Linked DNA regions of Homo sapiens: regions 2, 3 and 4 are each reported to be linked to region 1. Evidence: microRNA targets listed by miRTarBase, many of them from high-throughput screens and not tested one by one. Region 1 holds a microRNA gene; each other region holds the end of a gene's coding sequence.

Evidence for each region. Region 1 holds the annotated microRNA hsa-miR-7-5p (UGGAAGACUAGUGAUUUUGUUGUU, at 4,268-4,291, shown strand). A microRNA usually pairs through its seed, bases 2 to 8, with sites in the 3' UTR of a target mRNA and lowers its output. Matches are read on the target gene's strand: a 7mer-m8 pairs with bases 2 to 8, a 7mer-A1 pairs with bases 2 to 7 and ends in A, and an 8mer does both.
Region 2: miRTarBase lists THAP12 as a target of hsa-miR-7-5p. Seed matches in the 3' UTR shown: 7mer-A1 at 1,489-1,495.
Region 3: miRTarBase lists C10orf105 as a target of hsa-miR-7-5p. Seed matches in the 3' UTR shown: 7mer-m8 at 2,807-2,813 and 7mer-m8 at 3,560-3,566.
Region 4: miRTarBase lists WNT8B as a target of hsa-miR-7-5p. The part of its 3' UTR that is shown has no 7-base or 8-base seed match.

What each region holds. Positions count from the first base shown.
Region 1 is chr15:88,607,589-88,615,120 of GRCh38, forward strand. It overlaps MIR7-2 (microRNA 7-2), which reads left to right and starts at 4,237; the gene lies at 4,237-4,346. It overlaps MIR1179 (microRNA 1179), which reads left to right and starts at 519; the gene lies at 519-609. MIR3529 (microRNA 3529) reads right to left here and starts at 4,336; the gene lies at 4,259-4,336. It also overlaps a transcript of AEN not described here. RefSeq lists an enhancer at 5,446-6,130.
Region 2 is chr11:76,344,637-76,352,168 of GRCh38, reverse strand. THAP12 (THAP domain containing 12) reads left to right here. Exons shown (of 5, transcript NM_004705.4): 5 at 1-2,213. The coding sequence ends at 1,305. Among named protein-coding and RNA genes, the nearest start is that of THAP12, 33 kb to the left of the region's middle.
Region 3 is chr10:71,709,617-71,716,616 of GRCh38, reverse strand. C10orf105 (chromosome 10 open reading frame 105) reads left to right here. Exons shown (of 2, transcript NM_001164375.3): 2 at 275-4,916. The coding sequence starts at 280. The coding sequence ends at 681. It overlaps CDH23 (cadherin related 23), which reads right to left. Exons shown (of 70, transcript NM_022124.6): 28 at 3,804-3,952. Among named protein-coding and RNA genes, the nearest start is that of C10orf105, 6.7 kb to the left of the region's middle.
Region 4 is chr10:100,481,814-100,489,345 of GRCh38, reverse strand. It overlaps WNT8B (Wnt family member 8B), which reads right to left. Exons shown (of 6, transcript NM_003393.4): 5 at 7,292-7,434; 6 at 5,602-7,075. The coding sequence ends at 6,530. It overlaps SEC31B (SEC31 homolog B, COPII component), which reads left to right. Exons shown (of 26, transcript NM_015490.4): 23 at 1-94; 24 at 372-488; 25 at 1,248-1,319; 26 at 1,551-2,699. The coding sequence ends at 1,730. Among named protein-coding and RNA genes, the nearest start is that of WNT8B, 23 kb to the right of the region's middle. RefSeq lists enhancers at 2,834-3,609, 2,769-4,261, 3,610-4,386, 6,407-7,062.

The DNA.
Region 1 (7,532 bases):
ACTGAGATATTACTTGACAACACGGGGTTGGAGAACATTTCTGTTTCAGGCAGGAACTGTGATATCTTTATCTGTGATGCCCTGAACCATAAACACACAGGTCTTTTCTTTTCTCCTCTTGTTCTCTTCTTTTCTCTCCATTTCCTTCATTTATTATTAATATAAGAATTTTTATTCATTATAATTTCAGCATAAGTTTAAAAGGTCAAAAATTCGCTCGGTGAACTGACTTGATAGTTTTGCGGGTATTTACATTAAAATGCTTTTAAAATGCTTTTCTCTCCCATGTTACTATAGAAACTTCCCTTTAGACCAGACCAGACAGCTGGTCTGCTTTTTGTACTTTTCTTCCCAAAGAAGTGCTTTCCTTTATGAATTGTCCGGGGCAGCTATCATTGATCACATCAGTAATGTCCCATAGCAACAGTTGTGTGGTTTTTTTTAATTATTATTCACTTTCTGCTTATTTTCTTTATGGACAAAGGGTCTACTTTCAAGAAGATAACTGAGCTCTTATTGGCTGGAAAGGAAGAAGCATTCTTTCATTGGTTGGTGTGTATTGCCTTGTCAACCAATAAGAGGATGCCATTTATCCTTTTCTGACTAGCTGAGTGAGCAGGGTACACAGAAGGATTGAATCTGCCTTAGTTCCATCCAGTAGCAAAGGACAGAACTCAGAGTCCTGGACTCAGGATCTGGAATTGACTTTGGCTAATCCAGATTGCACTGACTTGCAAGGATGACATTTTTTACCTACCTATTCGCAGCTTACTTCAACATACCTGCCTTATACATTGTCCTATGGCTTTTTTCCCCCTTCATTTTAGGAGATACTGTGATCATCTTTCCAAGTCAGTGCAGGTTATTGTTACCAGCACACTGAGGGTCCAGAGAATTTTGTGATTTCCCCTAAAAATAGATAATTGGTCCTCATTATTAGAGATTTGGTGAAAACTTTTGGAGATGAAGATGGAAAGCTAGAAGTCGGAAGAACTGCATTGCTTGTGATGCAGAATGGATATCTCAGCTTGTGGATTCACTCTACTCAGCTCTCAGCTTTGGTGTTTTGTGTTTGGTGTTTGGTGTCCTCTTCACTTTGATTTTTATTTGTCTGTTTTTCCACTTTCATTCTTCAGAGCTGCGCTTTTGGCCTGAATTTTCAGTGACAAATAGAAAAGCTGAATGGATGGAGACAATGACTCTTTAATTCAATGTAAGAGCTGACTCATCGCTTCCCAGGAAGACTTGTTGCAGGTAGGTGATGGTTATCCTGGAACTGGAGATTATCCCAGTCCTTTGTTGCACTGGCAATGGGCAGGTCTGTTTATTTTTCTCTTTTTTCCTGCACCAAATAGTCCTACTCAGGGATGCTGGCATTGGTCCCCACTTCCCTAAAAGAGGGGAAGTCAAAGTTCTTTCCCTTTCAGGACAGAAACTCTCTGATAACAGCCCGGAAGAAGTCTTAATGTGAGTACAGACCACTTCAGTCAGTCTTTTTTTGGTTCTTGGCAGGAGGGGATACTGGGAATGGATAGATGCCTGATCATCACGGTGCTATCAAGAGCCATATTCTTTATTGGCCCCATCTGTGCCAGAGTTCAGCGGTACCATGAGCCCTAGTGCTAGACTATTAGCCCTTCAATATTAGGAGCTATGTCTTGTACCCCTTTGATTCCCTCAAACTCAGTTGTGCTTAAAGTAGGGCTGAACAAATGTTTGAACTAAATCCTACTGGCTAGTATTAAGACAAATAGCTTATCTTCTTCTTTATGAGAATGGTAGCTCTAGACCTGGACCCTCCCCCTCCAAATCAAAAGCTTCATATTCCCTAGCCCTCTTCACAAAAGATAAATTAAGGCTCAGTTAATTGTTACCATGGTAACATGGAGTGGCCACATTGAGGATCCCCATCATCCATTACTGTCATGAGGTAAAAGAGAGGAGGGGTTTGGGATCATTGTCATGGAGGAAACCATGGAAACAAGCGTTGCTAAGGGAACAGCTCTAAATTCAGAGGAAAGAAATTAGAAGTGGGGAGTGGAAGTTGGTGGGCTCAAGGGCAGGTCATTTTTTCAAAATATATTTCTTTGAGACTACAGCAGCCTCTTTTATTGCTTGCATCTTCTCCCAATTCAGATAGAGCCCAGAATTAAAGAATTTTGAAAACTAGGGCCACAATCAGTTCAAATTCATCTTCATTGGATCTGTAAGGAAAAAGCCAATGAAAATGGATTTACCCTGTTCACACCTCACAATCCTACTCTGTCTCTGAACTCTGCTTCTTTGCCAACCAGTTTCATTTATCACGGGCCAGGCTGTGCGCGAGGCACTTGGAAGAATAATGAGTGAGAGTCCCTGCTCTCATAGTGAGCTTCTAGCAGGGCAGTGGTTTGGGTGGTGGCTTTAGGGCCAGGGTTGCTCATGTAAGCTAGATCAGTCAGTCCTGCAAGCTGACATCCAGAGAGATGCTGTGGTTCTCTCCAAACTCTCTTTGTGGTGCATTTTAGCTTGTCTATTACTTCTCAAAGTTTATTTGCCAGGTCCCTAAGAAAGGCCTGTTTTTCCTAGAAATACCTAGGGTGCTAAGCTCTCCTATTAACCAAGGGGTTACCTTAGTTAGCATTGTTCTCTAATGGTACCCTCAGGTCCTTGTCTCTAAAACAATTCAAGGTTGAAGGACTAACCCTCCTCTCAACAGTGGCAAAGAGGCACGGGGCTATTTTTTTTTTTTTTTTGTAAAAGAAATTAAAGACCACACATCCATCTCTGTTTCTTGATAGATTAAAGGATGGGGAAAGGAGGTCTCAGTTTTCTACAGCTGGGAATTTCAGAGCCAGCACCTCACTGCGGGGTAGACTGAAGAGGGTCATAAAGAGCCTCTGGGGGAGGAACACCTCTCCCTTACATCTTCCACAAAAGAACTTCTTGGTTTTTCTCAGACCCATGGCAGAGATGTGCCCTGTCTCAGGCTGACAGCTGGAAGGGGCTGGGACTCAGAGCTAGGTATTGCCAGTCTTCTCCATGACTCCCCCCACTCCTCCTGCTCCTGAGCGTCTCCATCACCAGGCAAGCCCCCACCCCCATTCTGGATAGAGAGAATAAACCCAAGGATGGAAGGGTGGGCTAAAGAGGAAGTGCTCACAATTAAAAAGAGAAAGAATTAAAAGCAGCACCAATAGGGAAGGGTAATTATCCTTCAGTTGCTGCAGAAATACAATTAGGGCCATGCTCTCTGAGCCGCCAGGATATTGTGGCTTTTGCTAATTAAGGAGCGGATGTGTCCTGCCAGCGCAATTAGAGGCTGGCCCAGGCAGCAGGGGCTTTGCCTCTCCTCCACCAGTGCCACACTGCAAGGGAAATTAACCAGGGAGCCCAGCGCTGTGCCTGCAGGGAGGGGATGACTGGGCCAGGATTCCACCAGCCTCCTGTCCACAACCATTTCCCCTTTTCCTCTTCCTGCTCTGCTTACCCCAGCACCACCACTCTGACTTCATTCTGAAGCTTCCAGGGCTCAGTAACCACAGGAAGAATTTTCACCATGGGCCATGCCCATAGGCTTCCAGAAGGGGGAGGCACCAGTAGAGAGGGGTCACCATTTCCAAGCTCTAGTTTCTCTTCTGCATGGTGGTTCAATGCTTTATGATTAGTAAAGGAAAGAGAGAAATGAGCCACTTGCCTGCTTCTCTTTAAAAATAATTCCCCTGTTTGTAAAGGAAATATGCTCAAATTGGGTGCAGTGGCTCACGTCTATAATCCCAGCACTTTGAGAGGCTGAGGCAGGAGGATCACTTGAGCCCAGGAGTTCAAGACCAGCCTGGGCAATATACTGAGACCTTGTCTTTACTAAAAAAAAAAAAAAAAAAAAAAAAATTAGCTGTAGTCTCAGCTACTAGGGAGGCTGAGGTGGAAGAATCACTTGAACACTCGAGTCTGGAAGGTTGAAGCTGGAGTGAGCTGTGATTGCACCACTGCACTACAGCCTGGGTGACAGAGCAAGACCCTGTCTCACCAAAACAAAACAAAACAACTGTGTCCATTATAGAAAGTAGAACACTCCAGAAAAAAGGGAAAAGTAAGAAAAAATAATTTCTCCAGGGAATTCTGAGGTGAGGAGAGGTGTTCAAAGATGAACTTAGTAATAGGAGCGGAGACAACGCCTCGCCTGAAGGAGCATCCAGACCGCTGACCTGGTGGCGAGGGGAGGGGGGTGGTCCTCGAACGCCTTGCAGAACTGGCCTGGATACAGAGTGGACCGGCTGGCCCCATCTGGAAGACTAGTGATTTTGTTGTTGTCTTACTGCGCTCAACAACAAATCCCAGTCTACCTAATGGTGCCAGCCATCGCAGCGGGGTGCAGGAAATGGGGGCAGCCCCCCTTTTTGGCTATCCTTCCACGTGTTCTTTTTTGTATCTTTTGTGTTTCCTAGAAAACATCTCAGGTCACCACCCTAAACACCCATCGGCAGACTCTTCCAGAAACATGGACAAACTATGGTGTGAGCAGGGAAGTGGGGCAGGGTCTCTGTTTTCAGGGAGCAGTGGACTGCTTCCATACCACTACCTGAAGGGCAGGGGGAGAAAAACCCTCCTTAATTACTAATTCCCCCAACAATCACTTTGGGGCACCTATAATGGAGGCACCTTGTGACTCCACATCCTGGGGCTCAGGGCCTCATTGTCTGTGGCCCGACAGCCACAGTGTATGCGGGCACCGAGAGGTATGCACTGGAGACCGAGGTTCCCGGATGTTCAGTGTACCTGGCAGCAGGGGGGACACACCTGACCTCGGAGCTTGTCTGGTGCCTGCTCCACAGCTGAGGGAGTGGACTTGTGTGTATGGAATTTCTTGGTCCCAGTACCTGCCTCTGTGCTGCTACATCCAGAGGTGTGGCCAAGGGAAAAAAGCCCAGTGCTTGGGGACCATCCCCCACTGTGGCAGGAATACAATTAGAATTAGTGATCAGAAAAAGCATTTCCCAGCCTTTTATTTATTTATTTATTTATTTATTTATTTATTTATTTATTTATTTTTGAGACAGAGTCTCACTCTGTCCCAGGCTGGAGTGCAGTGGTACAGTCCTGACTCACTGCAACCTCCACCTCCTGGGTTCAAGTGATTCTTGTGCCTCAGCCTCCCGACTAGCTGGGATTACAGGTGAATGCCACCAACTCAGCTAATTTTTTGTATTTTTGGTAGAGAGAGGGGTTTGCTATGTTGGTCAGGCTGGTCTCGAACTCGTGACGTCAGGGGATCTGCCCACCTCGGTCTCCCAAAGTGCTGGGAGTATAGGCATCAGCCACCTTGCCTGGCCTCCCAGCCTTTCTGCCTGGGATCCCTCTGCCTGGGGGGTACCTTGCCCTAAGGTGAGCACCAAGTTACAGTGATGACACTTTCAGTGGAGATTAATTTTCAAGCAACAAATCCAAATGCCCTCCCTATTCCTAAGTATATTCCCACCCTCCTCCATCCATACAGCAGAGGAGACTAAAGCATATTACAAACTAAAGTTGGGGGTTGGGGATCGTACTCATTTAGGGAATGCTAAAAATGCAACCATTAGCTGAGCTCATTCTACCTCTTCCGGTTGCTAGCTGTGTGACCTCTGGCAAGGCACTTGACCTCTCTGAACCAAGTCAGCCCTTCACTTCTACCCAGAGACTTTGGCTGCCTCTGCTTCTGCTGCTCCCTATCCTACAAACTGGCTCTCTTCTTCTGCACTTCCAGTCTTAAATTTCCCTTTACTCCTAACCCTGCCTGAAGCCAGTGGGAAGCCAGTCCTATTAGAAATCTCATTTACACTTCAGAAGTCTGCAAATTGGTGTCACTCAGCAGGTATCTGTCCTTCACAGCGGGAGAGAAGCCCAGATTGGGCAGGAAGGGCAGAGCTGGAGAACAGGAGAGGAGGGGAGTTGAGTCTCTCCTGGGCAGCCCTCAGCCTCTGGGGCTGGTTTGGAGATGGAACGGGGAGAGATTGTGTCTCAGTGAAACAAGCATCTCGGGGGGGGATGTGGGGTGCATTCCTGATTTGAGGGATGGATATGACAGCCTTTGTTAAGTGGTGGGGGGAGTCCTGGCTCTGAAGTCAAACATGTGCCAGTTTCAATCTTGGCTCCACTGCTTACGAGCTGTGTGACTTTGAGTCAGTCACTTAACATCTCTGAGTCTCAGATTCCTCAACTGTGAAACAGAATTGATCACATCTACCTTGCTAGGTTATTACGATAAGTAGGCAAGTGAAGTGTCATAATATAAAATAGCATGGGTATATACCCAATATTGGTCTCTTCTGCCTTTTCTTTCATAGTTTTCATGGTTGTCCTCTTCACCAGCCTTGTGCACCCACAAATCTGCCATCCTGAAATAGGAAAAAATGGAAACCACCATCTTTCTATTAGTCTCCCCTATCATGTAGGAATTTAATCCTATTTAAATATGTATCCTTCCCCTTCCAGATCAGTATCTTGCCCATTTCAGGGGACTCAATATATATTGAAAGAATGAATATAGACCAAGTCCCTCCCCACTTTAAAAATGCTGAAATCAGGGCCTGCAGAGGTTGTGACTTATCTCTTGGTCACTCAGCAAAATAGACAATTTACTACTGTTTTTATTTATTTATTTATTTATTGAAATGGGGTCTGGCTTTGTCACCCAGTCTAGAGTGCAGTGGTGTGATCTCGGCTCAATGCAACCCCAACCTCCTGGGCTCAAGCAATTCTCCTCCCTCAGCCTCCCGATCAGATGAGACTACAGACACCCACCACCACACCCTGGCTAATTACAGTATTTTTTGTAGAGACGGAGTCTCCCTGTGTTGCTCAGGCTGGTCTTAAACTCCTGGGCTCAGGTGATCCTACCACCTTGGCTTCCCCAAATGCTGAAATTACAGCGTAAGTCACAGCGCCTGGCCCTAACTTACTACTTTTTAAGGTAACTTTATTGGAGTCTCAACACAAAAACCTCGGCGATACAAGGGTCACGGCATCTGGCCCGTCGCCTTAACTGCATCAACCGGGTTTACGAAACAGCCTGATTTCCAGCCCCACCCATCGCAACTGCAGCTGTCAGGTTTCCCGGCTCACGTTTCCCTGGATGAGCAGAGAGGCAGCGTCCTCTGCTGGAAGCTTTAGGTAACTCCACTTTAGCGGCAATTGTCAGTCTCAGCGACAAACTACTAACACCTGGGGAGATTTAAAAACCTTCCTGTTCAGGCCCCACCCCAGACCAGTTAAATCAGAATCTTGGGGTGGGGTGTGACCCAAGCGTCTGTGGTGCTTTTTTGTTGTTGTTGTTGTTGTTGTTTTGTTTTGTTTTGTGAGATGGAGTCTCGCTCTGTCGCCCAGGCTGGAGTGCAGTGGCGCGATCTCGGGTTCACGCCATTCTACCGCCTCAGCCTCCCGAACAGCTGGGACTACAGGCGCCCGCCACCACGCCCGGCCAAATTTTTTTGTATTTTTAGTAGAGAAAGGGTTTCACTGTGCTAGCCAGATGGTCTCGATCTGCTGACCTCGTGATCCGCCCACCTCGGCCT
Region 2 (7,532 bases), not on the chromosome of region 1:
CAGGCTTACATTGTCTCTAGTGGATTTTCTTCCAAAATGAAAGTTGTTGCTTCTAGACTTTTAGAGAAATATCCCCAAGCTATCTACACACTCTGCTCTTCCTGTGCCTTAAATATGTGGTTGGCAAAATCAGTACCTGTTATGGGAGTATCTGTTGCATTAGGAACAATTGAGGAAGTTTGTTCTTTTTTCCATCGATCACCACAACTGCTTTTAGAACTTGACAACGTAATTTCTGTTCTTTTTCAGAACAGTAAAGAAAGGGGTAAAGAACTGAAGGAAATCTGCCATTCTCAGTGGACAGGCAGGCATGATGCTTTTGAAATTTTAGTGGAACTCCTGCAAGCACTTGTTTTATGTTTAGATGGTATAAATAGTGACACAAATATTAGATGGAATAACTATATAGCTGGCCGAGCATTTGTACTCTGCAGTGCAGTGTCAGATTTTGATTTCATTGTTACTATTGTTGTTCTTAAAAATGTCCTATCTTTTACAAGAGCCTTTGGGAAAAACCTCCAGGGGCAAACCTCTGATGTCTTCTTTGCGGCCGGTAGCTTGACTGCAGTACTGCATTCACTCAACGAAGTGATGGAAAATATTGAAGTTTATCATGAATTTTGGTTTGAGGAAGCCACAAATTTGGCAACCAAACTTGATATTCAAATGAAACTCCCTGGGAAATTCCGCAGAGCTCACCAGGGTAACTTGGAATCTCAGCTAACCTCTGAGAGTTACTATAAAGAAACCCTAAGTGTCCCAACAGTGGAGCACATTATTCAGGAACTTAAAGATATATTCTCAGAACAGCACCTCAAAGCTCTTAAATGCTTATCTCTGGTACCCTCAGTCATGGGACAACTCAAATTCAATACGTCGGAGGAACACCATGCTGACATGTATAGAAGTGACTTACCCAATCCTGACACGCTGTCAGCTGAGCTTCATTGTTGGAGAATCAAATGGAAACACAGGGGGAAAGATATAGAGCTTCCGTCCACCATCTATGAAGCCCTCCACCTGCCTGACATCAAGTTTTTTCCTAATGTGTATGCATTGCTGAAGGTCCTGTGTATTCTTCCTGTGATGAAGGTTGAGAATGAGCGGTATGAAAATGGACGAAAGCGTCTTAAAGCATATTTGAGGAACACTTTGACAGACCAAAGGTCAAGTAACTTGGCTTTGCTTAACATAAATTTTGATATAAAACACGACCTGGATTTAATGGTGGACACATATATTAAACTCTATACAAGTAAGTCAGAGCTTCCTACAGATAATTCCGAAACTGTGGAAAATACCTAAGAGACTTTTAAAAATAGGCTTTCTTATATTTGATATTTGGAAGAAAAAGCCGTAAGGTGTATGTAGACCACTTAATCACTAAATATCTTTGCCTATAGGACTCCATTGAATACATTAGCCATTGATAATCTACCTGTTTAAATGGCCCCTGTTTGAACTCTCAAGCTTTGAAGACCTACCTGTTCTTCCAGAAGAGAACGTTGAAAGTGCCATGTTTCCTTTTGCGTGATCTCTGTTGATGGCACTCTGGAATTGTTTCAGTTAAGTCATTTTAGACATAGCATTTATTATCACTGTGGATCTCTACTTGTTGGGTGTTATGAATTCTTTGAAGAAATATATTTTGAAGAGGTGTGGGAGGAAGGAATACATTTTATAAAATGTTGTAGTGAAGCCCACAATTGACCTTTGACTAATAGGAGTTTTAAGTATGTTAAAAATCTATACTGGACAGTTACAAGAAATTACCGGAGAAAAGCTTGTGAGCTCACCAAACAAGGATTTCAGTGTAGATTTTGTCTTTCTTGAACTTAAAGAAACAAATGACAAAGTTTGAATGGAAAAGCCTGCTGTTGTTCCACATCTCGTTGCTGTTTACATTCCTTTGTGGAGCCTACATCTTCCTAAGCTTTTTAGCAGGTATATGTTGAACACTTCTGTTTCATGGTTGAGACAGAATCAGAGGCCATGGATACTGACAACTGATTTGTCTGTTTTTTTTCTCTGTCTTTTTCCATGACTCTTATATACTGCCTCATCTTGATTTATAAGCAAAACCTGGAAAACCTACAAAATAAGTGTTGTGGTTTATCTAGAAAAATATGGAAAATATTGCTGTTATTTTTGGTGAAGAAAATCAATTTTGTATAGTTTATTTCAATCTAAATAAAATGTGAATTTTGTTTAAAGCTTAGGCACATTATTTTTTGTGGGGTCAAAACATTCTTGTGTAAATTCTCTTAAACATTTGATAAACAGCTTCACAATTCAAGGTGAGTCTTTTGTATGTGGTTTACTACTTGGGTTACAGAAAAAAAACAATTAAGAAAGTGTTAAATGTAAGATTCACCCAACTAGGTTTTTTTTTTTTTTTAAATGTACTGTGTGGGCCCTGATGTAAATTGTCAGAGTTTGTCTTATTGTTGCTGGCTAAAATGAATGCAGAGGTGTTAATGAATTATTTTATGTTGGGAGTAAGTGTTACTTGAGCTTCAGAAACCAGAGTGGTGTGTATTTGCTGAACTGCTGAGAATGATAGCCCACAGTCCATTTCTCTGTCCTAGGAAAGCCCACAGATGTGTCAAATCAGGACACATTATGCATGCGGCTTATCAAAAAGATAACAAGAGTTTATCTTATAGCCAGGGCTCTAAGAGATGTCTCTGTCCTTGGCAGAAAGAACTGATCAAGTTCATGATGGCAGGATGACAATGAAGGAAACACAAAGCTGGTGTTTCAATACATTCATCCTGTTCTTAGGGAGCTTAAGAGTGGTGTGGGGCGGAAAAAAAGAGTGGTGTGACCTTGACAGATTACTTAACCTGGGTCAGTTTCCTCAGCTGTACAACCTACCTTAAGGTTGTGCTATGAGGGTTAATTAATTTATCATCGGTGACCTATTGCTGCTTAACATTCCCCCCAAATTTAATGGTTTAAAGAAATACTTTACCATTTCTCACAGTTCTGTGGGTTGGTTGAGTGGTTCTTCTCCTAGTCTCATCTGGGCTGTCTGCATTCAGCTGGGAGGGTGACTGGGGACTGAATATGATGACTGGGCCTCTCCATGTGGTCTTTTATCTTGCGCTATGTAATGGTGGTCTCAAGAGTACCAGGAAAGCAAAGGCAGTGGCTTCAAAGCCTGGACTCAGTAATTCAGAGCATCACTTTCACCACATTCTTTTAGTCAAAGCAAGTCACTTGGCCAGTCTAGATTCGAAGGAGGAGGAAATAGACTCCTTTTGTTGGGAGGAGCTACAAAATAATGGCCCCCTTTTCAGTCTGCCACAATAATGTATCCAAAAACATTCATGCAACAAGCATTAGTTAAAGATGCCCATCATTTGTTTTTATAATGTATGTATATTCTCTAATTTGGGAGTCTACTGAAAGCTTAAAAACCTAATTTATTAAAAGATGTTTTCAACAAACTGATCTTTGATGGTAGGTTGAATCAGTGCACTGATGAAACAGGTTGTCTTTTGCAAGATGAGATAATTTAGAAAGTGGTAGGTGTCATGACCATTCCACAAATATAAGTTGAATGCTTACTGTGTGCCAGGCTCCTTGGCTAAGTGCTGGCAATACCCAGTGCATTTTCTGACTCACCAAGCTTACAGACTAGAGTTGGCCCACAGTTGGCCCATAAGTACATGCAATTGTACGTACTTATAACTACACACACACAAACTTCATAGACTTCAGTAAATCCGATTTATTGAAATTAAAGGAAAGGAAAATAACATACAGAGTATCCACAAAAGCCTCGTACAGTTTTTTAAAAATAAGATCTGTATCATATCTAAATAGTTTGCAAATGTACTAGGAAAGACATTCAAGATTTAGCATATCTAATCAGAGGAATTTTTGCTTTTGACATATCTCTTTTTTTTGGAAAAAAAAAGTTACACAGTTGAAGCCTGATGTAGGATGTGTGACCTGTGAGGTAAGTGGGAACAAACACTTTATTAATAATTCTATGTAATTTTCAGTTAATTCTTAGAATAATTCCTGCGAAGTAAGTAGTAGTTGGTTGGGTTGAAAGAGCCTTCCTTCTGAGACCAGTTCCTCTGCAGTAACTTAGTTGGATCAGGTTTATTTCTGTTTGATAGGGGCAGCCACTTTTAAGTGCTATTTTAAGTAAGTCATAAAACAGGAAAATTGTACTTGCAGTGTTACTTTAGAGCTTACAAAGCACTTTGATCTCATTCAAGTTCTCAGAAAAATTCAGACAGGTATTAACCCCCTTTTATCAGTTGAGAAATCATGTTCACAGAGATGAATTAATTGCCTCAAATTAAATGGCAAGTAAGTGCCAGAGGCAGGTACTTCAGTCCAGTGCTTCGATATTAAAATTGATTGTGAAAGCCACTTCATTCTTAAGGTTTGTAAAAGGAATATTTGCTTTAGGAATAGGTTCCTTTTATGTTCTTGCTTTATCCATTGCCAGCTTTCAGCACAGCATCTCTAAAATGCACTCATTATAGTCGACATGGGTTTCTTGCAAAGAAAAAAAAAATGGAGCCTGAAACTTCTGAGACTTTACAAACTGGGTGTAGAAATGCTGCCACCTTTGTTTGGCTGCCAAGACATTACCACAGAGGACTAGATCCAGGTCCATTTATTTCATGAGAGTGGATGCAGCTGTCTTGCCATAATCAAATGCTTCTCTGTAGCCAGCTTTTTGTGGCCAGAAAAAGTAAAGTAATTTTTAGTACAGATTAGCATAAAAATATCCACAAGATCAGTTTCAGGAAACAATTCCTAGCTTAGAAGTAACAATAAGTGTGATCTATAGGTTGGCCAAATGGCAGTTAATTTCCAGACCTTTTTAAAATGCCCCTTATTTCTCACCATGAATACTATGTAAATAGAATACACTACCTGCCACTGTATTTAGTTTCATAAATTATTTGGACAGGGTGAACAACAGACTTCAAAACTATGTAGAGGTAGTAAATCTGCTCCTTTTTAATGAGTTTGAATTTACAGTAGTAGTTTAAACATCTGGAAGTTTAAAGTCTTAATTCATTCCAAATGTTCAACAAGGATATACTTTAAAGAGGATATTGTAATTGAGGGATCAAGAAAACTGTTGACTCAATCTGAGGCCTTTCTACTTTTCTCTATATACATTAATCACATACAACTTGAGAGGTTGACAGTTCAAAAAGAGAAGAGATGGACCCAAATATCCAAGTTGGCATTCTTATATGAGTAAGAGTATAGTTATAACAAAGGTGAAGTTTAAATGTTGGTACACATCTAAGGATGCAGCCAGATAGTGCTGCTGTGTTCTATGCTTCTTATGGATATGAGGAGGTTTTTTTGAATTGTTATGAAAGCTGGACTTAGAGGAGTCAAAACTTTTGACTTCTAAATTGTAATTTTGATTAATGCATCTCGTAACCCAAGATTCTGATGTGAAGCCAGCACCTAGCATGAGACCAAGCATTCCTTTAGTGCACACTTACTGAGTTTCTACTGGATGCTTGTTAGGTGTCAGTTTTCTCACACCAAAACAGGGTTGTGGCAGCAGCAGTCATCATTGTCCACAGCGGCAGCTGCTGTTAACGGTGCTCAATATATGCCAGCTATGTGCAAAACACTTTACCTATAGTGTCTCATTTAAACTTCTCTACTTTATGAAGAAGGTACTATTATCCCCATTTTACAGGTGAAAACCTAAGAATCAGAAGGTCGCACAGCTAGTGAAAGGTAAATCCAGAATCCCAACATGATATAATGATTTGCAGATCTAATTTGTTGTTAATTGTATTTGCTTCTCATTCTAATTTTGAATATCATATTGAAAACCTATGTTGCTCAGTCTGTTTGGCATCAGGCACAAGGCTGTCATGGATACAAATGTGAATGACATACAGCCCATGCCATGGATACACAGGAGAATAAGATTGACCCCCGGCCCCCAGTAAGCTGAGTCACATGGGAGAGCCAAACAAGCAAGCTGGAGTCTGCCAGGATCAGGTCTAAAGGTAGGGTAACCCTATAATTGATGGTCTTAACCAAAGCACTTTCGAGCATGTAAGGGGGCACTATTAATAGTTATGCCAGACAACAGATAAAACAGACTGTCTACAGCGCGCCACAACTTTTGTTCACCATAGTTAGAGGTAAACTCGGTGTGAGGGGAGTACAGTGGAGAGTACCCTGACTGACCAGAGACAATGCCCTGGATCAACAGAGTGCAGCATGTGTAGTGTGTTGTCACCGTTACAGGCCTTAGTCTAGATGCCAGTTCCCCTAGGGGCTTCCTCAGCCCTGAAATCTGGGTTGGGGGGTCCTTACATGTGCTTCCAGGTTTGCCCGGCTCTGCCACTGGATGAAAGCTGTGTGAGAACCTGTGTGGCTGTGAGGTGTCTCTCAGTTTGCAGCTCAGAGTAGTAGACAGCATTGAATATAGGAGGTCAAAGAGGTAGGCAACAGCCTTTGCAGAAAGACAGCATTGAATATAGGAGGTCAAAGAGGTAGGTAACAGCCTTTGCAGAAACCTATAAAAACAGCAATATTTGTTTCTCCACATATTACCTCATTAAGTTAATGAGTGATGATGGTATATAAAACTAAGCCAAATTCACCACCATCATTGCCAATATAGGTCCAGTTGAAACATGTTTGAAGCCACTGAGAAACTGGCATTTGCTAACAGTAGTTGGACCTTTGAAAATGGTGTGTACTGTGCAACTTTATGACCCCAAGTATTAGGTTAGTCTCACACTTCCTTCTCAGTGAAAATGTAGCTTTTATCTTAGTATTACAAGTATACCCATATAATGTATGATTCATCCTCCGTCCCCCCCACCACACACAAAAAAAAACAACTGTGATATTCAGCATGCTATTTCAGGTTGTTAAGGTACCTGATATGTAAGTAATACATCTTCCTCACACCAGTATTACACACATTGAACTGTAAATTCTTCATAGTGGTAGAGTTTTAGAGCTGGAAGGAGTTGTGGAAACTGTAGACAACTCATTTGACAGAGTACCGGAGAGGACGGCTTGCTCAGAATCGCACTGCTTGGTGATGGCAGAGGCTGGGGGTGAGCAGAAGTGTCCTCCCTCACTCAGTGCTGTGCTCTGTCACACCACACAGACGCAACTCAAGATGGAAAACCTGAAAGAATCATTTCTTGGCAGGTGAGCAGTGTCTGCCCTTTAAATTGTTATTAGTGTAAATGGTAATCCCATAAGTATGTCATCTTTATAGGAGAGAGATTTATTAAACAGGCCAGGGTCTGGGGTTTTTGGCACCATTTCTGTTTTGTGTTACCGTAAAATTTGGTTTTAAAAATATTTGGTATTGCTTACATCTTTTTTGGCAAATTCCTATTCTTGGTATGATTGTTTTTCTTTAGAAGAGTACATGTGATTAGATTGTAGATTTGCAAAGCCTTTATTTCCTAAAAGAGATGTTGAAAGCTTTCTTTATAATTGGATTTGTGGAATTTGGACTTCCTTTTATTAATAGCAGCTGCTGTATATTGAGC
Region 3 (7,000 bases), not on the chromosome of region 1:
GGCCACCGCCCTCTTGTCTGCATGGCAGATGGGCACAGGGTGGAACAGGAAGAGGGCCTGAGCTTGGGCCCAGCTCCATCACTGCTCAGCTGTGTGTACACTTAGACTTGTGATGTCTCTGGACCTTGCTGTCTTAACCTGTGATGTGGCCATGATGCTGTCCAGTTTAACAGTGCCTTGCCCCCATCCACATTCCCTAGGTAAGTCTTCCCTATACCCGCTGCCCTGGGTCCAGCTGATCTGCCTTTGAGCTTCTGTCTTGTTGCTGTTGCAGGAGCCATGAGCACAGAGGGCCCCAGCCTCGCCAGCTCCCCAGCCATCAGCCCCCTCGCCTTTCTCTCAGCTCCCGTCACTCCCGGGACCCTTGCAGAGGCAACTGACCCCCTCCCCATGCTCATCGCCCTGGCCTGCATCTTCCTCCTGCTGGCCACCTGTCTGCTGTTCATGACGCTCTGCAAGCCGGCCGCGCTGGACCCGAGCCGCCGCAGGGCTCACGAGTGCATGCCCCACCACCCTGGGAGCCCCAGTGAGCCCCAGCTCCGGCTCTGGAAGCGCCTGGGCTCCTTGCGCCTCTCCCTGCACAGCTTCCGCCATGGCCGGCCCACCGTCCCTCGACAGCCCCTGCCGGGCCCCGAGGACAACCGCAGCCACTGTGACTACATGGAATCTACCAAGATGTAATGGGGTGTCCACAAACATGCCCCCACATCCCCCTAGGTCTACCTGTAGATCCTCCTGCTTCAGAGACCGGTGCTGCAGGCTGCAGGAAGACAGTGGCCCAAGCAGTCTGGGACACACACTCACCCCCCGAAGCTCCTTGCATGCCCAGGCCAGCGCCCTTTCCCAAAGATGATCCTCAGAAGAGCACCTTCCTCTCTGCAGACCCCCTCGCTGCTGCTTGATGAAAGACTTCTGGTCAAGAGATGTGCACTCGTGGTCATCTGGGCCTTTGGCCTGAGGCTCCACAGGGTACAACCTGGGGCTCGTAACCACCTCCTAGAAGCAGCACCCTCGCTCGCCACAGAAGCCTTGCCCTCCAGGTGCCAAAGCCCAGCATGGAGAAGTTGCCAAATGGCAAAGGTTCCCTTTAGTCAAGTGAAATGCTCAGCCTACACCGGGGCCAAGACACTGTCCTGGCATCTGTGCTGGCCCAGTGCTGGGGCAAAACCTCGGGGCTCTCTTCCTTGGGTTTCCCGGGTGCTGCCAGCATCTGCCTGGTGCCCTGTGGGAGCAGCTGCCTCCCTCCTGGTGGAACAGATGCCTGGGTGCCAGCTGGGAGGAGGAGCAAACAGGGCTCTCCAAGCATGGTCTTGGCAGCCGTCTTGGTGGCCCCTCTTCAGGGCACCCACGTTGGGATCAATCAGGAAGGGATTGAAGATGATCGAGGAGGCTCCCTTCAGAGGCCAGGGCGGGTGCTGTGACAGAGTGGCAAGAGGCAGGGCATTTCCAGCAGCTGGAGGTGATGCCACCTGGACTCGGAGGAGGACAGCTCACAGCAGCTCCACACCTCACCCAGGGAAAGCGGCAGCCTCCCCGAGGGTGGGATGGTCTGGACCTCTCCAGGACAGCTGTGGGGTCCCAAGTCCTGCCCACACTAGGGATGCTATCTGTGGTTTTGGTGAGTGCTTTGCTGATGACCCGTCAAAGCAGTCCCACCCCAGGATGGGCTTCTCAGAATCCCAAACCCTTGACCTCTCCTCACAACGCGAGGGTTAAACACTTTGGTCAGGTCCCAAATTTGAAGGGTGGGCAGAGGGAGGACCTGGGCTGCCCAGCTCCTGTCCCAGTCAGCTGGCCAGGATCCCACCACAAAGCTGCCCCACCCCCATCCTGCTGTGACCCACAGTGCAGCCAGCCACGTCTCCCCAAGGAGTGAGCTCTGGCTTGCCACTCCCCAGCTCCAAAACCTTCACTGGCTCCCTAATGCCAAATGGATATAGCCAAAGCTCCTCAGCGCAGTGTGCAGTGCCCTCTGGGAGCTGGCTCCAATTAATCTTTCTAGCCTCATCTTGATCCAAAACTCCAGGAAAACTGAAAGACCTGTCACCCACTAACTGTGGCTTATGCTTCACACACACCCACTCTGTGAAGCCCTCCTGCCTGGAGCCGCCCCTACTGTCTCCTACCTCTCTTGGGGAGGAAAAGGAACATTCTCTTGGCAGCATGGGTCCTTTTTGTCTATGTCTTCTCTTTCCTACCAGCTTGGGAGCTTGCAGAGAGCCAGACATTGTCCAGCCCCTCACTTTGACTCCCCAGTTCTGTGCACAGAAGTATGAGGCTTCTGTGTACAGAGTGAAGCGTGGCCCAGCCTGGGTGTGTCCCCACCCTCTGAGGCAGGAGTCTTGGTGGAAGCTGGCATAACACAGAGCCTCATCTTCCCTCAGATGACTCTAGAAAGATTTCTCTCCAAGCAGGCTCTATTGGAGAAGCCCACTGTCCCTTCCTTCCAAGTCAATCTGATCTCAAAAAGTGAGTCCGGCTTCACAAGAAACTTACCAAGAGGACCTTGGAGAAGTCATCCTGAGACGCTGCATTTCTCCCTGAGAAATGGGAGAACTCAGGGCTGCCCTATATTAACTCGCTGGCTCTAGGATTTCAGTAAGAGTAGTATTGTGTAAATAGAAACCAAGTCTTTGGGTTTAGAAAGTGGGGCAGGCCTCCTCCCTAAGGGTTTTGTTCCTTCCTCCCTTCCTGCTCAGTAACCTCTTCCTGGTTTGCTTCCCCTGGGGCCTCCCTGCAAATCCTAGGCTGGATTCAGCCTGTAGCCATCCACCTCACCAGCAGGCCCTGCTGGCCACTAGGCACTGTCTTCCTGGAGGTTGGGGTGGGGGTTGAGGCTGCCCTGAGGCCTGAAGAAGGAAAAGTCCAGGAGGGGGAGGGCTCTCAATTGGGTTTCAGGCACCAGGCCAGGGGGGTATGCTCCAAGTCCTCACAAGCTGAGGCCCTGATCGAGAGAACCCTCTACTTCCTCCTTCTGGAGCTAGCCACCACACTCTCGCAAATCCTCAGGGCTTTCTGGGCTCTCTGTGTTTCTGGGAGTCAGCTCCCTGCTCCCCAGCCCTTTCCTGCCCGCCTCCTGGTCCCGATGCAGGGAGGGGAGCATTGCCAGCCTCCCACGCTTCTGTCCCTCCCAAGCCCGGGAGCCTGCCCCAGTGGGCAGGCCCAGATTCCCTGTTTGGCTCAGCCTCCGAGTCGGAAACCCCATAGTTGGTAAAGAGACTCATTCACTCCGGGCCTCCCTCCCCACCCAGCAACTGAGGCCTCTGGGCAGAGGTGTGGGTGCACACCCAAATTGTTTTCAGGGTCCTCCCTTCTCTCCCTCTGAGCCTTGGAGCTGTTGCGCCTGCTCCCTGGGCAAAGGAGCCCTTTCTTCTTGTGCCTGTTTACTTCCCAAGAGGGGAGCCTCGGCCAAGGGCTCTGTGAAAGCAGCTCTGTTCTGGGCCTTGCTGGGCCCTGGCTCTCTTCTCAACTCCTTTCCGGGAAATTGTGACGTCTCTTTCTCCCCGCTACTCTGAAAGGCCCTTCTGGGTGGGGCGGGAGATATGCAGGGGGAGGCCAAGTCTTCCTCCTGTTTGTGGGGAGCCAGAGCCCTATCCTCAGCTCTGCAACCTGGGGGCCCACACTCCCTGGGATGGGAGAGGGCCTGGGTCCCCCTTTCCCCACAGCACCTTCCAGAGCAGCGGACCCACCCTGGGCCCCCACCTGCTTCCGCCTCTGGTGCCACTGAGCATGTGCCCTCAGGGCCGTGTGTGGCTCCGCCTCCCCCAGCCCACCACCTGCCCCAGAGGCCACGGGCCACCTGCCTGCAAGATGCTGTGGCCTTCAGGGATGTCCTCAGGGACGCTGGCCTCATAGCTGCTCTGCAGAAAGATGGGCCGGTTGTCATTCACATCCAGGACAGTGACGAACACGGTGGCTGTGCCCGTGTGTCGCTTCCCTACAGGGCCGTTGTCTGTGGGAGTTGAAGGAAGACAGGTGTTAGCAGCTGCCTGAGAGAGGGGCACACTTCCTGTGACTTTGCACACTCCCGGGCACCGGCCAGAGAGGTGCCCTGTTCCGCCCCATCTGCCCTAGCCTTTGCAAGGGGTGACTTCCTTTTTAGCTTAGGAATAACACTAACAGTATCAAATACTTAGATAACACCATGTGCCAGCCATTCTTCTAACCCATTCAGTCCTCACAGCAACCCCATGAAGCAGACACTTTACTGTCATCCCCATTTTACAGAGGAGGTAACTGAGGCACTCAAGTGGATTGAATGATGGCTCCCAAAAAAAACAGACCCATGTTAAACCCCTGGGAACCTGTGAAGATTAATTTATTTGGGAAAAGGGCCTTTGAAAATGTAATTACGTTAAGGATCTTGAGAAGTGATCATCCTGGGTGAGCTGGGTGGCCCATAAACCCAATGGCAAGTGTCCTTACAAGAGAAAGGCAGAGGGACATTTGAGACAGAGAGGAGGAGGCCACATGCAGATGGAGGCAGAGGCTGGAGTTATGCTGCCACAAGCCACCGAATGCCTAGCGACTCCAGAAACTGGGACGGTCAAGGACTGATTCTCTCTAGAGCCTTTGGAGGAAGCGTGACCCTGCCGACACCTTAATTTCTAACTTCTGGCCTTGAGAACCAGGAGAGAATACACTTCTGCTGTTTTAAGTTTGTGGTAGTTTGTCGTGGCAAATTTAGGATGCAGATACAGGTACTAAGAGCAAAAAGCCAACTGCTGTCAGGGACTGGCGGGTATAGCACCTGGGTCAAACACCTGGATGGGCCCCGCTGGAAGGGCAGCTGTCCTCCACTCCAGTCCACAGCGGACAGGCAGAATGTGGGCCCAGAGACACCAGATCTTCTGATTTCTCATGAGAAATTGAACATCTGAGCTTTTAAATAAAATCTCCTGATCTTTAAACTTTCACAACTAATGGTCATTCTTTATAAAATATTGGATAGGTCAAACAAACGTCCCCTCTGCATTCAGGAACACGGGCTTTGCTTGGGATCTAAGCTTAAGGTCCCCGGAGACTCTGTCCCTCCAGTTCCCACAGGACCCTCCCAGGGCTGGGAGGTGGTGAGGATGGGGCACTGACTCAGCCCCAGGCAGCTCTTGGGTTGTCCTCCCTGGAGGAAGGAGCTTGTAACCAGCGCTGCATGTCCAGGCAAGAGTGGTCACCCCAGGGGGTGGTGCAGGCAGCTGGAGTAGCCTGGAGACCTAGGGTGACGCCATCCTTCTTCCCCAGGCCAGCTGACCATACGTGGCAGTGCTGTCGCTCACTGGAGGTAGGTCTTCTCACCCTCCAAAGCTCCTCTCCAGACCAGCCTCCCACCACCCTTGGGGGTTGGCTTATTGCTCTGGCTGGGATTGGTGTGTGTGTGGGAGGCTCCCTAGAAGGCTGGCAGAAGCCCTCTCCTCCTGCCAGGCAATGCCCAAAGTGAGGGCTGGACTCAGGGGTGATAACAAGTCTCCAGAGGGTGGGCAGCCATTCCAGGAGGGGAGGAGAGCAGGGCAGAGGGCAGAGGCATCTGGGCATGGGCGGGCTGGGAAGGGATTGATGGTTGGAAAGAGTGAGGCCCAGAGAATTCATTCCCTTCTTACTCAGCTCACTGCAAACTTCCTGGGAGGACCAGGAGCACCCGGCGGCACAGGTCTCATCATACCACTCTTCCCCTCTGGGGCCCTCAAGGGCTCCCTGCTGCCCAGAGACCAAAGACCAAACTTCTTGGCCAATGTTTAGGCCTCCACACATGGCCCTACCTGATCACAGCCTCCCCTTCCCCAGTGTGGGCCACTCCATGGGCCAGCTGCGGTGCATGCACGCATGCTTGTGCACACAAGGCACTTTCCCACCTCCAGGCCCTTGCATGGGCTGGTGCCTCTGCCTGAAGTGCCCTCCCTGCTTCTTCATGTACTGAAACCTTATGTGGCCTCCAAGGCTGCAGTGGGCACCCCTTGTTTCTGTCCATCAGCACTGCCCTGTGCTCCCCTGGGAAGGCCATGTCCTGAATGTCCCCCTGTGGACCCTCCCTTCCAGGCTTTGAGGCCTGGGATGCTGGGTAGGTGGGACTGCCCCCAGCTCCCTGCACATCCTAGGCTGGATTCAGCCTGTAGCCATCCACCTCACCAGCAGGCCCTGCTGGCCACTAGGCACTGTCTTCCTGGAGGTTGGGGTGGGGGGTGAGGCTGCCCTGAGGCCTGAAGAAGGAAAAGCCCAGGAGCAGGAGGGCCCAGGATGGGCATGTGACTTAGGCTTAAGTAACCAGCACATCTCACTTCCCTGGCTACAGTGAGGGGCTCAGGAATGGGCACTGGGGCAGAATGGATCTATCTAGAGCTGATCTGAGGGCTTCTGCCAGGGAGGGGAAAGAGACAAGTGCTGTCTTCCATGCCGCTGCACTTGAACCTGAGAATGTGTACAGGTGAGGCTGGGGCAACGACCTGCCACCATGTGAGTTGAAGAATAAAGCCAACTGATATGGTTTGGCTTTGCGTCCCCACCCAGATCTCATCTTGAATTGTATTCCCATAATTTCCACATGTTGTGGGAGGGAGCCAGCGGGAGATCATTGAATCATGGGGGCATTTTCTCCTACACTGTTCTCGTGGTAGTAAATAAGTCTCATGAGATCTGATGGTTTTATCAGGGGTTTCTACTTTTGCGTCTTCCTCATTCTCTCTTTGCGTGCTACCATCCATGTAAGACAGGACTTGCTCCTCCTTGCCTTCTGCCATGATTGTGAGTTCCACGTGGCCTCCCCAGCCACGTGGAACTGTAAGTCCCATTAAACCCTTTTTCCTGTATAAATTACCCAGTCTCGGATATGTCTTTATCAGCAGCGTGAAAACAGACTAATACATCAACACACAGGAGGCAGCGCCAGCCAGTGCAGAGACTGAAGCCTGAGGTGTCACCTGAGCCCTGAATCCAGTCATACTGGGAGTTACATCTCCCAGTGGACTGGTTTTGTGAGCCCATATTGCTGAAGTCAGTTTATTTTATTTTA
Region 4 (7,532 bases), not on the chromosome of region 1:
CACCCCTGAGCTACAAGGGATTCTTCCCTCACAGCCCCCTGTCTCCAGTGTGAGTCATGCTCCCCCAGGAGTTCCAGGAGAACTCAGCCTGCAGGTGACAAGGACAATGTATTCCCCTCCCTTGGGAAACCTTCCAGCCCTCCTTGGGTGCAGGTCATGGTAGATGGGCCTCATTCCTCAAGGCATGTGCTGAGGGAGACTGGGGGCAGGTACCAGGTGTCCTTACTGCAGAGAAAGGGAGGCTGCTCATCTCCCCAACTCTGCTGTAATGGGAACAGTGTGACTGTGAGTCACTGGGGACTAGTCCTTAGGGAAGCCATGAGAAGGACAGCTTGCCCCTCTGGCCTTTCTCCCTGCTTCTTTATCAGCAGCTTCAGCACCTGCCACCTGAGAAGATGGAAAGGAAGGAGCTGCCCCCAGAGCATCAGTCCTTGAAGAGCAGCTTTGAGGCGCTTCTCCAACGCTGCTCCCTGTCTGCAACTGACTTAGTAAGTCTGAACCTTCTTCACAGTGCCCTCCTCGCACCCCTCGCTGGCTCCAGGACCCCTCAGCTGTGGACCAGTTCCTTGTGTGACTCTCTTCTCACTGCCCCTGGACATGCTGTCTCTATCTTGTACTTAATTGACGTCCATGTGGAGCTGGGGAGAGACTTTTGAGTCTGGTCTGAAGTCCAGCTCCTTGGTGGTAGGACCCAGCAGCATTGAGACCTAAAGGCAGCAGGGGTACTGGAAGGAGGGTGGAGCCAGGAGTGAGGAAGTCTGCCATTCCCCTGCTGGCTGTGTCGGCTTGAGCAAGTCACTTACCCTTCTTGGGCCTTCATTCCCTCCTCTGTGAAATGAAGCCATTCTAGCTCTAATATGCTGTGATTTTTTTTTTTTTTTTTTTTTGAGATGGAGTCTCGCTTTGTCGCCCAGGCTGGAGTGCAGTGGCGCGATCTCGGCTCACTGCAAGCTCTGCCTCCCGGGTTCAAGCCATTCTCCCGCCTCAGCCTCCCGAGTAGCTGGGACTACAGGTGCCCACCTCCATACCCGGCTAATTTTTTGTATTTTTAATGGAGACGGGGTTTCACCGTGTCAGCCAGGATGGTCTCCATCTCCTGACCTCATGATCCACCCGCCTTGGCCTCCCAAGGTGCTGGGATTACAGGCGTGAGCCACCATGCCCGGCCTAATATGCTGTGATTCTTTATGGCCCTGTGTGGTGTTAGACTTAGGGGCTGGGGTTGGAATCCATTTCTTTCCCTGCAGAAGACAAAAAGGAAGCTGGAAGAGGCAGCCCAGCGTCTGGAGTATCTATATGAGAAGCTCTGTGAGGGGACAGTAAGTACAGCTAGCTGTGCTCCCACTGCCTCCTACACTTCCACCATCACCATGGCCAAAGGAAGCCCAGTGTCTTTTCTTCCCATAGGTGTCACTGACCTGGGTTCCCCACAAAATACGTGCATCTTGCCTGGACTGGGCCCCAGAACTTAAGTCTTCCCTTATCCCTTCCATGCTGCCAGGGTAGGAGCTGGGTTGGGCTCACTAACCTAAGGGTCATTCCCTCCACAGCTCTCACCTCATGTCGTGGCTGGGCTCCATGAGGTTGCCCGATGTGTGGATGCAGGAAGCTTTGAGCAGGGCCTTGCAGTGCATGCCCAGGTGGCGGGCTGTAGCAGCTTCAGCGAGGTGTCCAGCTTCATGCCTATCCTGAAGGCTGTCCTCATCATCGCTCATAAGCTGCTGGTCTAAACCAGGCAGCCTCTCTTGCTAGGAGGCCACTTCTGCTGTTACATAACTCCTCCCTGCAGAAGAGGGGACTTCTGCAACAGATTCTGTTTCTTTTTCCCGACTCTTTTCCTTGCTGCCAGGTATGTGATGCTGTAGGCTTGGCTCCAAACCAGCTGAGTGCCTGCTTTTTACTCCTTTATGTCTGGCCTTCTAGGATCTGTCCAAGACACTCTCAGGCCTGGAGGCAGGGCATAGAATCAGTTCTTCACTCTCCCTAATACTACACTCTGTAAGGACCTGGGGCAGGATATCTTCTCCCCCAGGGATCTTCTATTTAAGTGGCTTCTGAGAGGGTGAACAGGATTGTTACTTTTAAGCCTACCTCTGCTGTGACCCATCATGTGGGTCTTTTGTTTCTCCCTTCTGTGGTTTATGAGCCTGCCCTTACCTTTTCCCTGCCTCTGACTTGGTATTTCCAGGTCCGTATTTCTCTGTAGCCCAGGGTCTGGGGTAGAGCTGACTGCTGTTCACCCTTTGAACAACTCATGGACGTGAGGGATGGGTGCTGAGCAGAACCAAGAGAGGAAACTTTGGCGCTGTTAAAATGGAATTTCTCATCTGCCGGCATTATTAAGGGTGGGCTAGGTTGGATGGAAGGTGAAAGGGATGAACTGCCTTTTGCTGGAAGCTGTCTTAGGCTGTGAGACAGGAGCAGGGGAACCACAGCCTATGGGGAACTGCCCTTGACTCCACCTATGTTGGAGCCTTAGCCCAAGGCCATTCCTTCTGTGATGATAAAGCCCAGTTCTGGAATTGGAGCCATATTAAGGAATGATTCTCTTCCAGCGCTGCTCCTCAAGGGTTGGGGGTCCTTCTCCCTCGCAGCCACCACATGTCTCAGGGCTACCTTCTCCGATTGGATTTGCATTTGTGGCACTGTCTTTGATGCAGTGATGTACTTAATGGTGCAATAAAGCTGCTTCGATTTGGTTTCCTCTGTCATCTCCCAGTCATTGCCTCCTCTGGGTTCTATTTTGCCATTACCTTTCTAGTCCTCTTTATTCTTGCTTCCTGCACCCTAGTAAGGCAGGGGAGAGGCTTAGGGAGAGATAAATCAAGAAAGTTAAAGGAAGGTGTCCATTCCCACTGAATTAGGTTCTCTCCTTGCAGCATTTGTGGTCACTCTGCTGGGTGTGTTGAGGGTGGGGGGATTGTCTCCCTTCATCCGTGCCTGGTGTTCAGTTCCAGGGTTTTCCCTACCCCACTTCAGGGCTGAGCTCAGCTATACAAAGGGACTGGGTGTGAAGCCAGGGGATGCTAGCCCTAATCCTGTTGTAGATCCCATCATGTCTGCGGGCTAGATGTGTGTGTGTTTGGGAGGGAGGGATTGTTAGGCAGTATTTGTTTGTAAAGCCACTTGCTCTTCAGATAATACTTGCACTAACTTCTATTGATGAAGCAGTGTGAGCCCTAGCAAAGTCCTTTCCCAAAGTGTCTTTGAAGCCAAGAGCCCATTGAAGGGAAGAAAGGCCGGGAGAGGGGATTAGTTTGTTCAGCAGCTGTGAATTTCAGTGGGAGGTTGATGAACTCCGAAGTCTTTGTTTAAATTAAAGTGGGGGAGAAAAAAGCCGCTGCTGGAGCGAGAGCCCCACTTGGGGCCCTGAACTAACACAAGGAGAAGTCTGAGCTGCAGGGAGCTGTGTACTGACTGCGAAGACTTTTCCCAAACACTTTCGGAAAAGGTGTTGTGAGAAGACAAGGGGGCGGAGTGGCGGATTAGCATGTGAAATGAAGTTTTCATTGACTCCAGTGGGGGTAGAAGGCTATTTTAATGGCATTTTGTTCTCCTATTTTCTCTTCTTGAGCTCTTTAGAGATATTGTTTTGCTAAGACAGGCTTTCTTCCCCCTTCTTTCCAGTCTGAGGATTGCCTCTATGGGAGCCAACATAAATATTTCTCCTCCAGGAATGCGGGTTAATTAAAAGGAAATGAATGAGTGGAAGCATCCAATCCAGACCTACAATAGGCGAGTGCCCTGGCCTGCCCTCCCCTCCCACCACCGCCAGCACCACCAGCGCCGAAGACGACCCCGTCTCTGTCTTTGCCCTAACCTGCTGCTAAGGCCAGTTGAGGCTGCGATTCTTTTCAAAAAGAAAAAGCTCTGCCTGTGTTTAGGCTCACAGGCCAGGGACAGGAAGGAGACAGTGTTTTGCCCACCCCAACCAATGTCCTTGTCACTTCTCAGGGCCTCCCTCTGTTTCTGTCTTCTGGCTGAGACAGATGGGCTCCTGAAGAGCACACAAGAGGTGGAAGGGGCCTGTGCTCTGCACTCTCCCCACAGTAACTTACTAGTTGGGGGAAGAAGCCAGTCATCTTTCTCAGCATCAGTTTAAATCTGTAACACAAAAGGTTTGACTGGCTGACCTCAAAGATGTCTTCCCAAGCACCAGTTCTGGAGTTGTCTACTTTGTAAAGGGACCACGGCCCTGGCAATTGAGTGTAAGATGAGAACTTAAACTCCGTGATGCAGCAATGGTGGTTGTTCACCACTATCTCTACTCTGGTGTTTGTTGAATGAACAAATGAACAAGTGGATATTGCAAAAGGAAGGGAAAAGCAATACAGATCCAAGGCATCTCAGTCATGTTTTCTTGGTAGAACTGGAATGAATCTGGTATCCATTTGGGGGTATAAAACAATAACCTATGAAATAATGTTCTGGCGGCATGACGTATTTAGAGTGCTGACCTGGAGTTACCAAATATGAAGCACAATAGTTCTGCTTTTATGCTAAGAGACCTGGAGAATGTAGCTTTACTTTACAACATTGTGCTTTTAAATTTTCTAGCTGCCTTGCCAAACTTTCTTCGTGTACATTATAAAGTAATTCTGCAAAGTGGGACAGGTAGGTTAGTATATGCTGCTTCTTGATTAAGGAGAAAAGGTGAGTTGGGAGATTCAGGAGGTTCAGATAAAAGCAGAGGGAAGGCGTGAAGGGCCTTTTGCTGAGAAAGCTGGAAATGAAGCACTAAGAACACCTGAAAGGAAGTGTATCCCCGGTCAGGAAGGGGAAACTCTCTCCTCAGTAAGTGTTGGTAAGACCAGAAGGTGTGTGGGTGAGGCCAAGGGTTTGGGATCTGACCTGGCCATTGCCTTAGTTTGGAATACGGGAACCCTTGACTCTTACAGGTGAACCCCTAGAGTCTTGGCTTTTGTTGCCTGGAGCCAGCCACACTGCTTTTCCTACTCTGGGAGAGGAAGGTTGAGGTCGTCTAGCATCTGACCAGTTCTGCTCTAGAAGAGCTGCCCAGCCCCAGACCTGGGACTGTCCTAGGGCAAGGAAGCTGGCTGGGAAGCCCCTTGGGCTACAGAGGGTCTGTCAGGGATTGGTTCTTCCCTCCCCAAGGTCTTGCTCTGTTTCATAAACAAGTCCCTGCTGTACTCTCTGAGAATAAAACCAGAAGACTCAAGTACCACAAGCAGCAAGCTCATGGCTCTTGAGTGAATGTATTAGAAGATTTAAATAGATGATTTACTAATCCTTGGCAGCTTAGCCTCAATCCAGATAACTGCTTGGGCCACCAGGGAAGTGAGGCTTTAGGGAGGATGGTATCCTGCCAAGATGGGAGGGAGGAGAGAGCCTACAGGTTGTATCTGTTACCACAGCCCACCCGAATATCCTCAAGAATAAGTGCAGTACCTAGAAAAAGAGCACATATCACAATGACTGCAATAAATTAAGGTTCAAGGTGCTGAACTTCCTACTAAGCAACAGTTTCATTGCAGGAAGTTTACTCATTGAAGGAAGATATCCAGTGCTCTGAATCCTGCCTGTTTGAGAACCAGGTTAGTGAGAAGGAAGGGTCTCAGTTTCTCCTTCTTAGGACCTGCCTCTAGAGGTGCAGACCAGGATCTGAAGAGGAAAGTGGCTTTATTTACCTCAGTCTTGGCTCAGAGGAACAAAGATCCTTTGGAGAAGAAGAGGTAAAGTTGGTTGCTAGGAGGAAGTAGGTCAGGAGAAGGGAGAAGTTACCTTTAAAGGGTAGGAAATGACTGTAATCTGCCCTTAACGTATTTCCTAGACCTTCGGGGTATGTATCTGGAGTCCCTCGGGTTATTGTCTAGGAAAGTCATTGCCCCACTAGTAAAGTCCATTCATGATATGATACCATAGGGATGAGTAGCACCCTTGGTGTTCAAGTTAGCACTCCAGAGCTCCCTCTTCCATCTTCAACCTCTGCCTCTAGGAACCAACCCCAAAGACATGCTTTTCCGGGGCCAGTTTCCTCAGTTTTTCTGGGAAAGGAAAGGGAGAAGAGGAGAGAAAGCATTCAAGATTCCTGGGGAATCTGGCTCAGCAGGTAGCAGGGGAGGAGCTGTGCAGAAGAGAGGTGCAGCAGTGGGTGAGCCCTGGTAGCAGACAGTGGGCAAAAGGGCAAAGCTTTGACTTTACCTGGGTCCTGCGTGTCTGAGAAGGGTTCTTCCAGCGCCTAAGGCTTGATAGGCTAGGTCAGACATTAGGGCTGCTAGGAGAGGGGAGGAGGAACACCTGTTCTCCTAATCCAAGGAAGATCAGTAACTCAAAGCCTGAGTTCTCAGACCTAGGTGTGGCTGCGAGGATTCAGACAGAGCTCTAGGAGAGCACAGAGGAATTGGGGAAACAGGCTGGAAAGTGGCAAGCTTTGGAGAAATTGCAGTCTCTCCCTCTCAGGATCCCTAGGTCTGGGAGAGCGGGTTCCCCATTCCCTAGGTTCCACAATTACCGGGGTCTCTAAAGGAAGCCAAGAACCAGTGGGAAAAGGAGGGGGCAGAGGAAACCCTTAGGGTTTTCTCCCGGGTTTGTGCGCAGCGCCCCCCCGCGGCCGCTCTGCGCGGCTACAGAAGTACTTGGTGACCCTCCGGCGGCACTGCTCGCAGCGGACTGCGCAGCACCAGTGGAACTTGCAGTTGCAGCTGGACACGGTCTCGGCCCGGCGCTCCTCCACCGCCAGCCCGCAGTCCCCGCAGAGCCGGCGGCAGCTGCGGCGTTCCCAGCGACCCAGGGCCCGCCCGCGCCTTAGGCACTCTCGGCCTTCGGTGCCCAGCAGCCCTAGCGTTTTGTTCTCCAGGCAGTAGTCCGGGGAGTCCTCCAGGTGCACCAGCTCCCGGGTAGAGATGGAGCGAAAGGTGTCGGCGATGGCGCCGCGGCCGGCCGCGCTGTTGCCAGCACCCTGCAGCAGGTCCACCTTGAGTGCTGCGTGGTACTTCTCCTTCAGGTGCGCGCCCACCTCGCGGAACTCGGGCAGCTGCAGCCAACAGGTCTGCGTGGTGCAGCTGCCAGACACGCCGTGGCACTTGCACGTGCGTTTCATGGTGCCCTTCACCGCCTGGGGAGAGAGCTAGGAGTGAGAGGCCCCGGATTAAGCGCGTGGCGAGTTTAACTGCCCCTGTGGGAGTTGCGAGAAGTCTAGTTAGTCTACTGGGCCAGCCCACTTGGTACCTCATTTTGCCAATCTTTTAAATGAACTGAAGAGTTGTCCGCACCTGGAGCTGGTAGTGGATATAGCCAGCAGCTGCCTATTTCCAAGGGCTGCGGGACTCACCTTGCGGCCAGCCTCGTTGTTGTGCAGGTTCATGGCTGCCCGTGCATCCTGTCCTGTTTCCAGGGCATCGACAAACTGCTTGGAAATCGCCTCTCCGAAGCCCACATTGTCACTGCAGCCTCCCCACAGCCAGCCTTGTCCCCCTGGAAAAGTGCAGAGGGAGGACAGGTCATTGAGCAAGCGGGCGCAGAGCCTCCTGGGCTGCTGTTTCTAATTGGGTTGGGGGTGGGGGGGTCCAGGA